Linked DNA regions of Homo sapiens. The protein of the gene in region 1 interacts with the protein of each later gene in a pairwise test. Each region holds a gene or a part of one and is shown in the gene's direction. Other genes may lie near its edges.

The links.
Region 2: the proteins of RAB17 (region 1) and CSTPP1 interact in binary tests that used the Homo sapiens proteins (3 or more experiments, as listed by UniProt).
Region 3: the proteins of RAB17 (region 1) and BOLA3 interact in binary tests that used the Homo sapiens proteins (3 or more experiments, as listed by UniProt).

What each region holds. Positions count from the first base shown.
Region 1 is NC_000002.12:237,584,101-237,587,854, reverse strand, and holds part of RAB17 (ras-related protein Rab-17), read left to right. Parts: intron 1-1,697; 5' UTR 1,698-1,700; coding exon 1,701-1,857; intron 1,858-3,754. UniProt on the Homo sapiens protein: The small GTPases Rab are key regulators of intracellular membrane trafficking, from the formation of transport vesicles to their fusion with membranes.
Region 2 is NC_000011.10:46,939,629-46,943,382, forward strand, and holds part of CSTPP1 (centriolar satellite-associated tubulin polyglutamylase complex regulator 1), read left to right. Parts: intron 1-3,754. UniProt on the Homo sapiens protein: Regulator of the tubulin polyglutamylase complex (TPGC) that controls cytoskeletal organization, nuclear shape, and cilium disassembly by balancing microtubule and actin assembly.
Region 3 is NC_000002.12:74,134,900-74,138,066, reverse strand, and holds the end of BOLA3 (bolA-like protein 3), read left to right. Parts: intron 1-2,408; coding exon 2,409-2,474; coding exon of another isoform or gene 2,475-2,545; 3' UTR 2,546-2,667; downstream 2,668-3,167. UniProt on the Homo sapiens protein: Acts as a mitochondrial iron-sulfur (Fe-S) cluster assembly factor that facilitates (Fe-S) cluster insertion into a subset of mitochondrial proteins. Probably acts together with NFU1.

The sequences.
Region 1 (3,754 bases):
TTCTTTTCTTTTTTTTTTTTTTAAGAAACACAGATGGAAAACTTAATGTTATGTTTTTTATCCGTCTCTGAAGCCAGCATCATACTTGATGGTGAAACTTGAGTATTTCCAGCTAAGATGGGGTTCCAGGCATGTTTGGGATAACCACCCGAGTCTACTATGTGGAACCCTTCTTCTCTGATGGGTAGAGAGCCCTAAACCCTCCTGTTCTGGACTCCATGACTCTCAGTCACTTTCTCTCTAGAACGATCTTCTTGGTATCTAGGACTCAGTCCTATTTGTTTTGAGATTGATTCCAAACTTGATTCCCTCCCCTCTTATCCCTGCAGGGCAGACCAGACCAGTCTGTGGCCATGGCTCCTTACTGGCGGCAGTGAGGGCATGTGGGCTGCTTCCAACCACTCCTGCTTTTCTTCTTTCCTTTTCAAAATTCCTCCCCTTCCCCCTTTAGGGAGCCTCCCTCTTGCCCACTGTGGTGAGGAAGGGAGAAGAGACTCTGTTCCCAGGACCAGCTGCCCCTGATGGGTTTCATATTTTTTGTGGGGAGCTTCTCTTCCTAGATAATAAACACAAAGTGATAACATTAGAACATTATTAGAATGTCACCATTTTGCAACCCCTTAGTAAAATAGTGGGTCGAAGTAATAGTCTTCAGTGACTGCCAACATCACAGAAAGACAACTGGACATTATTTGCCTTCTGTGGGAAGTGCACGCACACTCTCATGGCAATCTTGCCAAAAAATAGCCTGTATCTAATCAGGTTTATGTCCTGAACCACCGCGGTATCAAAAATACAGAGTTCATAGGACTCTATTCAATAACACAGGGGTGTAATCAGCAACATCCGTACTGGAAATCTACAGGACAACCTGATTTCTTCAACACATGAACTGCAAAGAAAAAAAAATACCTGTATCTCTACTGAGATTTGCAGATGATAGAATGCCTGGGATCTGCTTTACACAGTACCCTGCAGGGGGAGGTTTGGGAGTGTGAGTGATACAAATGGCTGAGCTGATTACTGGGGAAGCGGGAGGTGGGTCTATGGGCCCATCGGACCGTTCTCTCTATTGTGGTGTGTACATGAAAGTTTCTATGATGAAAAATACGCAGGGGTCGCCCACGTTTATTTTGATCACGAAGTTGGTTTTCTCTGGGGCATATTACTGTGGGTTCTGAGGCTTTAGACACAATGGGAATGTGTCTACGATGTTTTGAGATCATTGAGACACCAACCTTTTTTTAGGTAGATTTTTTCTGAAACACCAACTTTAATCCATGAACAACCACCCAAGAAATGCTCAGATGCTTTTTACCTCTCCTTGCATTAGATACTTTGGGGACAAGTAATAGATTTGTAAAAACTGAAAGTAATGGAAGGAGGACAACAAGCCCTGAGACCGTCACATGTAATCATTGCTTTTCAGGGTCTGCAATGACCCGTGCCCGGAGCTTTCCAAGCAAAGCTCCTTTTGTTCCTTACCACAGACCTAAAAATGGACCTAAAAATTGCAGATGGGGAGATGGGGCATGGGGTGCAGAGGGAAGCAGGAGTGTGGACCTAGGTGGCCTCTGAGTTGGGAGCTCTGTATTGGGCCATCTGCTCCTGACCGAGAAGCAGCCCCGGGGTTGAGCTTGCTGAGATGATGTGGCTCCGATGTTCCACTTGCTTCAGACGGTTGTGATTCTTTGCAGGGCATGGCACAGGCACACAGGACCCCCCAGCCCAGGGCTGCCCCCAGCCAGCCCCGTGTGTTCAAGCTGGTTCTCCTGGGAAGTGGCTCCGTGGGTAAGTCCAGCTTGGCTCTTCGGTACGTGAAGAACGACTTCAAGAGTATCCTGCCTACGGTGGGCTGTAAGTGAGGGCAGAGCACCCCTTTGTTGGTCTTCAGTGCAGAAGTCTGGGCTGCTGACCCACACCTGGGGCAGATGGGGACGAGGCCCACCTAGGAATCCCCATGCTGGGACCTTGAGCTGCCTGTGTCCAGTGCGTGAGGGGAGGGGGTGAGGTCCAAGAGGGCAGCCACAGAATCTACAAAGACAGGAAATGCCCTTGGCTCTGGGTCAGGTTTCAGCTCAGCTGGAGTCTGCAGGGGGTGGAGATTCTGGGGTAGGACCTCTGGCCCCAAAGGGTCGGGCTGGGTGCGAGGGATTATGCTGGTGGAAGGGACAGCCCGGAAGAAGCCTCCTGGGCCCTGGCCACTCAGCGGCCTAAACCAGCTGTCCTCTCCCACCACCCAGGCCGCCCTCCTGCTAACACTGCTCCCTTGCTTTATTTACCCCAACAGCATCTTCCTTCCTGCCTGGACTTGGTTTACCAGCTTGGCCTGGATTGGGGGTGGGAAGATCATTTTGGGGGTGGGCGGGGAGGGAGACCTTCTCTCTGTGTTTCTTAAAAAGGCTAACCTGTCATGAAGCTCAGGAGTAACTGTATGGGGCATCTGCAGGCTGCTGGCCTCCTTCCCATCCTGCTGTGGGCACAGTCTGCCTAGGCAGTGAAACCCAGTTTTCACCTGAAATGGGGAAAGCCAGCGTGTTCTTTATGCCCATTCCCCCTGGGGGAACACATGCAGAATCAGAGCCTCGGTTTCAAATTCGGACTCTGACATGGATAAGCTGCACATCTCCAAATTCACTCATTCATTTACTCATCTAACAGGCATCTGTTGAGCATGAACCCTTTTGCAGGCCTGCGTTAGGTGGGATGGATTCTATAACCAGCTAAACAGATGCACCAAACACAGAAACACAATTGCAAGATGTGGCACATGACGTTAGCTATTTAGGGAGCCCTTCCATTTTCTCAGGGGGGTGGTTCCTGAAGGATCCCCAGGGGATACAGGGGAATTGGCAGGGGTCTGCCTGGCCCGACTCCCAGAGCTAGTGGTGAGAAGGGCCAGGGTGATGGTGAGAGGCTGTCTGCAGAGGGGGACCCTGGGGAGAGAGTCAAGGTTACCCTGTGGTGTGCAGTACAATCCTCTTCTCCATTAGCAAGGAGATCTGTACCCCTCACCCCCCAAGTCCTGATATTGGACTTGGCTTCCTTTAAAAATACATCAAAATGCCAAGGCTGGCCTGAGGGTGGCCTCAGTTGAGAATAGAGCACACAGATGGGGGCCTCACCAGGCCTGGATGTTGAGAGCTTTGTACCTGGGTGGCTGGTATTCAAGATGCAGAGAGAGGCAGCAGGTGTCAGGCCAGGTGAGCTGGACTGGGGATGGATCTCACTCTGACACGGAGGTCTGCACACTGTGGCTCTCTGGCTGTTCTTGTTGTTTTGTGAGTAAGGTTCTGTGGAGACACAACTCTACCTCTTCAGGTACTTACCCTCTGTAAATGATATTCTTGCTGTTCCTCCTCCTCTATTCACTCTAAAATGGCAGCAGGGTTGAGTGGTTGCAGCAGTGACCCCATGGCCAGTAAAACCTAAAGTATCTGCTACAGGGCCTTTTACAGAAGGACTCCATGACGCCACCCTAGCAGAGCCTGCAGGAGCCAGCGCCCAAAGGCACTCACTAGGTGAGCGCAAGCAGGGCTGAGAGATTCCGAGATGCCCGGTTGGAGCGTAGGAGGGTGCTTTGGATTCATTGAGACGTGCTTGGACGTGCTCAGCCCACAGAGAGCTGTACCCACAGAGCACCCACCTTTCTTGGGTGGGGGTGGGGGGGTGATGTGTGGGGTCTGTGAAGCTTCAGGGTGGTGCCGGGCATTCTGTATTTTACAGGTGAGGGGGATGGAGGCCCCGACAATGA
Region 2 (3,754 bases), on another chromosome or scaffold:
TGCATAGATAGATAGATAGATAGATAGATAGATAGATAGATAGATAGGTAGATGTTTTTAGTGAAAAGCCTACCCCTTTGCCTCCATCTGCCCAGTTTCCATCCATCCTCAGCCTCCCAAAAGTAACCACTATTATTGTTTTCCTGTGTATCTTTCCAGAGTTTATTATATACATAAAGGAGTATACAGTGCATACTTTTTCATTTAATACATCTTGAAGTAATTTCCGTTTCTTTTGTTTTTTCTTTTCTTTCTTTCTTGAGACAGAGTCTCACTCTGTCACCCAGGCTGGAGTGCAGTGGCACCATCTCGGCTCACTGCAACCTCCACTTCCTGGGTTCAAGCCATTCTCCTGCCCCAGCCTCTCAAGTAGCTGGAACTGCAGGCACGAGCCACCACACCTGGCTAAGTTTTTGTATTTTGGGTAGAGATAGGGTTTCTCCATGTTGCCCAGGCTGCTTTTGAACTTCCTGAGCTCAAGCGATCTGCCCACCTTGGCTTCCCAAAGTCCTGGGATTATAGGCGTGAGCCACTGCGCCTGGCCTCGAAGTAATTTCTCAGTCAGTAGGGAGCTTCTTCGTTCTTCATGAAATTCATTTTTAGCTATATAGTATTTAAATAATTTATTTAACCAGTCCCGCACTGGTAAACAAGTTGTTTTTAGCCTTTTGCTGTTACTAAGAATGCTGCAATGAATAACCTGCAGTTTTGTTCCTTTGCAAGTGTATCTGCAAGAATAAGTTCCACAAAGTGGAATTGGTGGATTAAGGGCATATGCATTGAAGTACTTATAGATATTGTCAGATTGCCCTTAATAGGTGTTGTACCATTTTGCCACCAGCAATGAAAGAGAATGCCTGTTTCCCCATTGTGCTGACAACAAAATACATCAAACTTGGATTTTTTTCAATCTAAGTGACAGATAGTCTGAGTAGATTTAATATGCATTTTTAAATGAAGTTGAGTGCCTTTTTACCAAGTTTAAGGGCTGATTGGTCTTTGAAAGCTATATATATACACATATATACATGAACATATATATAGACATATATATAGAGAGAGAGCTTAAGACAGTGACCACATCCATTAATCAGCTAAAAGGGGATATCACAGACAATTTTGTATCTAATGAATAACAGTATCAATGTCAAGCAATGCCTAGACTTTTTTCCAAAGATTTTATGTATTTTATTACCCAGTACTCAATGAATATATGAAATATTTGAAAAGGCTAGTTCATTGTTCAGTTCCTTGGGTGTTTGCTGTTTGAATTTTATGTCTCAAAGGCTTGGCAGATTTGGTGTATTGGTGCCTTGGTGAATAGAAGTTGGTGGTCTCTTCATAAATGGCGTTTTCAGGAAGGCCAATTCAGTGGCAGTGTTGAGAATGAATCTACAAACAGAATCAGAGTCTCAGGTTGGTTGAAAAAGCTTCAATGTTTGTGAAGCCCAACCAATCACCTAATAATTGAATCCTATACAAATGCTTCTTCATGCTTTGTTGCATATTTAAGTGTCTTAATTCCTTGTCCTAACCACTAACTAGACATTCATACTGCCCTCAGCATGGTCACACCCCTCACTGCCTTCTCCTGGTTCATCAAACCGTATCACTCTGCTGAAATGCGTTTGTCTTTAGTTGAGAACTATCCCTGCCTTTTACAATTTGTCTCTCTTAGAGGCATGCTGCTTTGACCTATTCACCCTCAATTTTTTTTTTCTTTTTTCTTGAGACGGAGTCTCGCTCTGTCACCCAGGCTGGAGTGCAATGATGTGATCTTGGCTCACTCCAACCTCCGCCTCCAGGGTTCAAGTGATTCTCGTGTCTCAGCCTCCCAAGTAGCTGGGATTACAGGCACCTGCCACCATGCCCAGCTAATTTTTGTATTTTTAGTAGAGACAGAGTTTCACCATGTTTGCCAGGCTGGTCTCGAACTCCTGACCTCAGGTGATCCACCCACCTTAGCCTCCCAAAGTGCTGGGATTACAGGTGTGAGCCACCACGCCTGGCCAACCTATTCACCCTCAATCTAATGACCGTTTAAAACCACTCCCTACAGAATAGATTAATAAAATATTTCCTGATTTAAATTTTTAAATACCTGTGATTTTTCCATTTGTTTTTATTTTTATACATTATAAAGTTACTTGTATGTGTAAGCCTAAAGAAGACTATACTTATAGAGAAAACAAAACTGCAGACTGGAAAGCCCTAGGCATTCAGTGAAACCCAAAAGCTAAAGTTGAGTTCCCCTTGGTTAGTGTATCTGGAGACCTCTCTTTAGGATTATGGTGTAAATTACAGGGATACCTATCCAAAGAATATCTAGAGATATCCCTTTCTCCCTGCTAGCTAGGGATTGTATTTACCTTTCTGACTATTAGTGAAGAAATCAATCTTTTATCATGTTGGGTAAACTGATCCTTTCCCCACTGACTTTGTAGATTAGGAACCTGTAATCATGGCCTTGCATGGCTTAAGATCTTAAGATCATCACTAAAGAATAGCTTAGTGATGTTCATGTCTGCAGTCATCAGAATGTAGTGATAAAAATTGTGTTAATGCCTAGGCCTGAAGAGAGAAAGGAGAGTCTGGTAAGGAGATGAAATAAGTATAGACCCTCTCTGTAGGACCCGCAAAAGGTTTCCAGCCTTATGAAACCTACTTAGTGGAAGCTTCTGCCAGAGGCTGAAGGTGTGTCTGTGTATCTGGTTGGGTGTGGCGAGCTCTCTAGAGCCAAAGGGCAGCCTGTTCTGGTCCCAGGTTTGCCAAACATACCACCTACGTGCTGACCTGAGTATAAGCATGAGGGCGTGAGGTTTATTTTTTACTCCACCTAATTTGGTGAGGTGCATGCTTTCACTCACGCTCCAAGTTGCCTCTTCTTTTCCATGGAACCTGCTTATTCTCACTACGGTTGATAGTGGGTTAGTATAATAGATAACTCTAGAAATCAAAGATGGCCTTTCTCCTTTGGGGACTAGACATTTAGAAGAATCACAATAAATTGGGTAGTTTTTTTTTTAAGCTATAGTTTTTGAACTCTTCCTATATGCCTGGCACTGTGGTTTATCTCATTTAATTTTCACAACTACCATATGAAGTGGGTACTCTTACTGGTCCCAATTAGTAGTTATTAATATCATCTTCTCATTTTATAAATAAGGAAGCTGAGGCTTAGAAAGGCTAATTGATTTGCACAAGGTCACACAGGCAATGATGCATAGTAAACAGGGGTTCATACCCAGGTTTGTCATATTCCACAGCTTGTGTTTTTTCCTCTTCACTAAAAAGATAAAAACAAACCAAAAAACCCCTATTGGTTCAAAGGGCAGTAATTCTTGCTTCCTTATTAAGGATGAGGCTCTTGCAAATAAATTTCTTGGGAACAAGAATTGTGTTTTACTCATCATTGTCAACCTTCTATCATTGTCTACCTTCTATCACTGTATACCTTCTATCATTGTATACTCTCCTACACTTAATTCATACGTATATGTGAAATGGAATATGAATAATCTGACCTTAGGGTACCCTAAACATGAGTAGCTAACAAAAGCAACCGAGACTTATTAAGAACTTACTCTGTACCAGGTACCATTTTAAATGCTTTACATATATTGATGTATATGAAGATAGTTTCAGTTGTTATCTCCATTCGGCAGATGAGGAAACTACACACAAAGATACCAAATAACAAGTTGTAAGTGGTGGATCCAGAATTCTAACCCAGCAGTCTAATTGAAGTCCACAT
Region 3 (3,167 bases), about 160 Mb from region 1:
TCAGGGAGGGGGAGTGCGCAGGGCCTGAGTGGGTGAAGCCCAGAAGGTTCCTCTGTCCAGGGTCAGTCACATGAAGGTGTGACTGGGCCCTCACCCAGCCAAGGTGGATGTAAGGAGGAGAGGCTGGTTGTGGTCCAGGCACAGACACAGTCTCTAGGGAGCATTCCACGCCTGCAGAGAGCAAGTGGCCCAGGGACCTTCGCCCAGTGATTATATGAGGCTTTTTCCAGGGACATTTCTGCCTGTCCGCAGAGTTGAGGGCCCTGCACTTGATTGTGGAGCTGGAGGGTGTGCAGTGTAGGCCAAGTGGGGCAGCTCATTGTCCCCCAACACAACAGGAGCTCCCGGATCAGGGCAAGTCAGGAACATGATGGAAACCAGGTATGGCCAGGACCTCAGGATACCTGGGTTCATATCCTGATTCCATTACTCGCTTGTTTGCTGACTTTGGACAAGGAGTAGACTCTATTTTTTTTTTTTAATTAAATAAGGGGATGGGACTAGATTGTGTCTAAGGATCTATAAACCTGACCACATATATTAGGATTCTTTATATTGTAAGAGACAGAGACCAAATTAAAATTAGCATAAGCAAACAAAGGGAATTAATTGGCCCATGTAACAAAATTATCTGGTTTCTGGCATATCTAGATTCCTCTCTCTCTCTGAGCTTTCAGCTTCTTTCCCTGTGTTGGTCTCCTTTTCTCCTGCTAAAGATGGGCTTTCTCTCCTTGGTGGGAAACACAGTCCATGGCCACCTCCAATTAATTTCATAGCATGTTGGCCCAAGAAACAAGGCTCCACTCTCAGAAATCCCAAGGGAGATTCTAAGTGGCCCAATTTGGGTCATGTGCCACCTCGGTCCAATCATAGGCTGGGCCAGTGGCACATAATGACCTCAATATCAGACCAATTGGTGGTTCCACCAGAATTATACAATAGAGTGGAAAAGGAATTATTCCCCAAGAGAAGGAGATCACTAAAGAGACTAGAAAAGAAAAATGTCCACTCTAGTATGATTATCAGATTTTGGCCTAGTATAAAAGGACCTTATTTCTTCCTCTGTACTGATTATAAACTTGAGCGGTCCAAGCCCCACTCTGATTCTGTAACCTCACTTTCTCCCAGCACTACAGGGGCCAAATATCTATTTGACTCTGGTAGTTCCTTCAGATTTGGGCTCTGACACCATTTGTAGCCTTAAAACAAGTCCCATAATTCCTTTGAAACTTTATTTCCTGCTCTGACCATTGGGGAATTTGTGCTAATTGGTATGATTTTAAAGAACTGCTCATTTTAAAGAATGCTTGATGCTCGAAATAACAAAACACAGGAAACAGCCTAAAAGTTCGCTAGGGGACAGGTTGAAAAGTTATAATGCATTCATATAATGGAATACTATGCTGATGCAAAAAAGAATCAGGACACCCATATATGCCTAACATAGAAAGATCTCCAAGATAGATGTTTGGGGGAAGAGCAAAGTGTAGAGCAGGGGTGTCCAGTCCTTTGGCTTCCTTGGGCCACAATGGAAGAAGAATTCTCTTGGGCCACACATAAAATATACTAACACTAATGATAGCTGATGAGCTTTAAAAAAAATTTCAAAAAAAATCTCAAAATGTTTTATGAAAGTTTACGAATTTATATTAGGCCACATTCAAAGCTGTCATGGGCCGTGGGTTGGACAAGCTTGGTGTAATGTGTTTGAAATTTTAACCATTTGCGTTTTAAAAGGTCATGGGGTGAAATATATTAGCTTGAATATGCCTGGTGAATATGCATTTTTAAGTCCCTGTAAAGATACACAAGAAACTGGCCAGGTGCAGTGGCTCACGCTTGTAATTCCGGCACTTTGGGAAGCCAAGACAGGCAGATTGCTCCAGTCCAGGAGTTCAAGACCAGCCTAGGCAATATAGTGAGACCCTGCCTCTACAAAAAATAAAAAAATTAGCCAGGCATGGTGGCATGTGCCTGTAGTCCCAGCTACTAGGGAGGCTGAAGCAGGAAGATTGTTTGAGCCCAGGAGGTGGAGTTTGCAGTAAGCCGATATCGCGCCACTGCACTCCAACTTCGGCGCTAGAGCGAGACCATGACTTAAAAAAAAAAAAAAAAAAAGATACACAAGAAACTAACAACAGTTCTTTTGGGAACAAGGGTGGAAACTGGGGAGATGGACAGGTATAGGAGGGAGACTTCCCTGAATGCCTTTTTGTACCTTTGAATCTTTAAATCATGTTAGATATTATTGATTTAAAAAAAATTGTTTTTCAAAAAAAGGAAAAATTGCTTAAACAAAGCACATACAAAGTCTCCTTCAGATGCAGAGCTGTATAAAAATACTCTCAGAGAATTACTGTAATCAACGTCAAATACACAAAAACTGATGATGCTGTTTTCTTACTTAGGCACTAAAAGAAGAAATCAAAGAGATGCATGGATTGCGGATATTTACCTCTGTCCCCAAACGCTGACCACGCCCTGGCTGCATAGATGCTGCTGCTTAAGACCTTGGATGAACTTCACTGACATCATTCTTCCCTAAGCAGTCACCAAAAAATTTATATATTTTGCTCATATACATTTCCATATTATAATTATAGAAGATGTATAATCTATTTAGATGTTAATTAAAGGAAACAAACAACTGAAGCTTTTGAAGGGTCATTAGTAATGTTTCAGGTTCCTTTATTTTGGCCAAAGGGGTCTTGTCTTTAGACAGTTCTGTCCTGCTACAGAGAGAGAATGCAGTGCCAGCTTTTTGTCTTTTGAAGAGGTTTTCCTGTTTCTTCCCCTCCACGAAACTGCTCAGGCCTCTTCATCTTACTGAAACAAAGAAAAGATCCTTTACTATTGCTGTTCTTTTCGTTTATCATTCTTTTCTTCCCCCTCTAAACTTCTTACATGAATGATCTTGGACCCTCAATTTCTTATGCTCTGAAATGGACTCTGAAAATTTGGGGGTGCCAGGATCCGGGTTCTTTTCCTGTGTTTGAAGATCCTCCACCCTTTGATTCTTGGTAGGAGGCAGAGCCCACCTCCCACGACAGAAGCTGAAAAGGCTTACTTTCCCTGCCTCCCTCACAGCTGAGGCACAGGCAGATATTCCAGACTCAGCCAATCAGATGGACCTGCCCTGAACTTGGGAGCAAGTCACACCGAGGAGC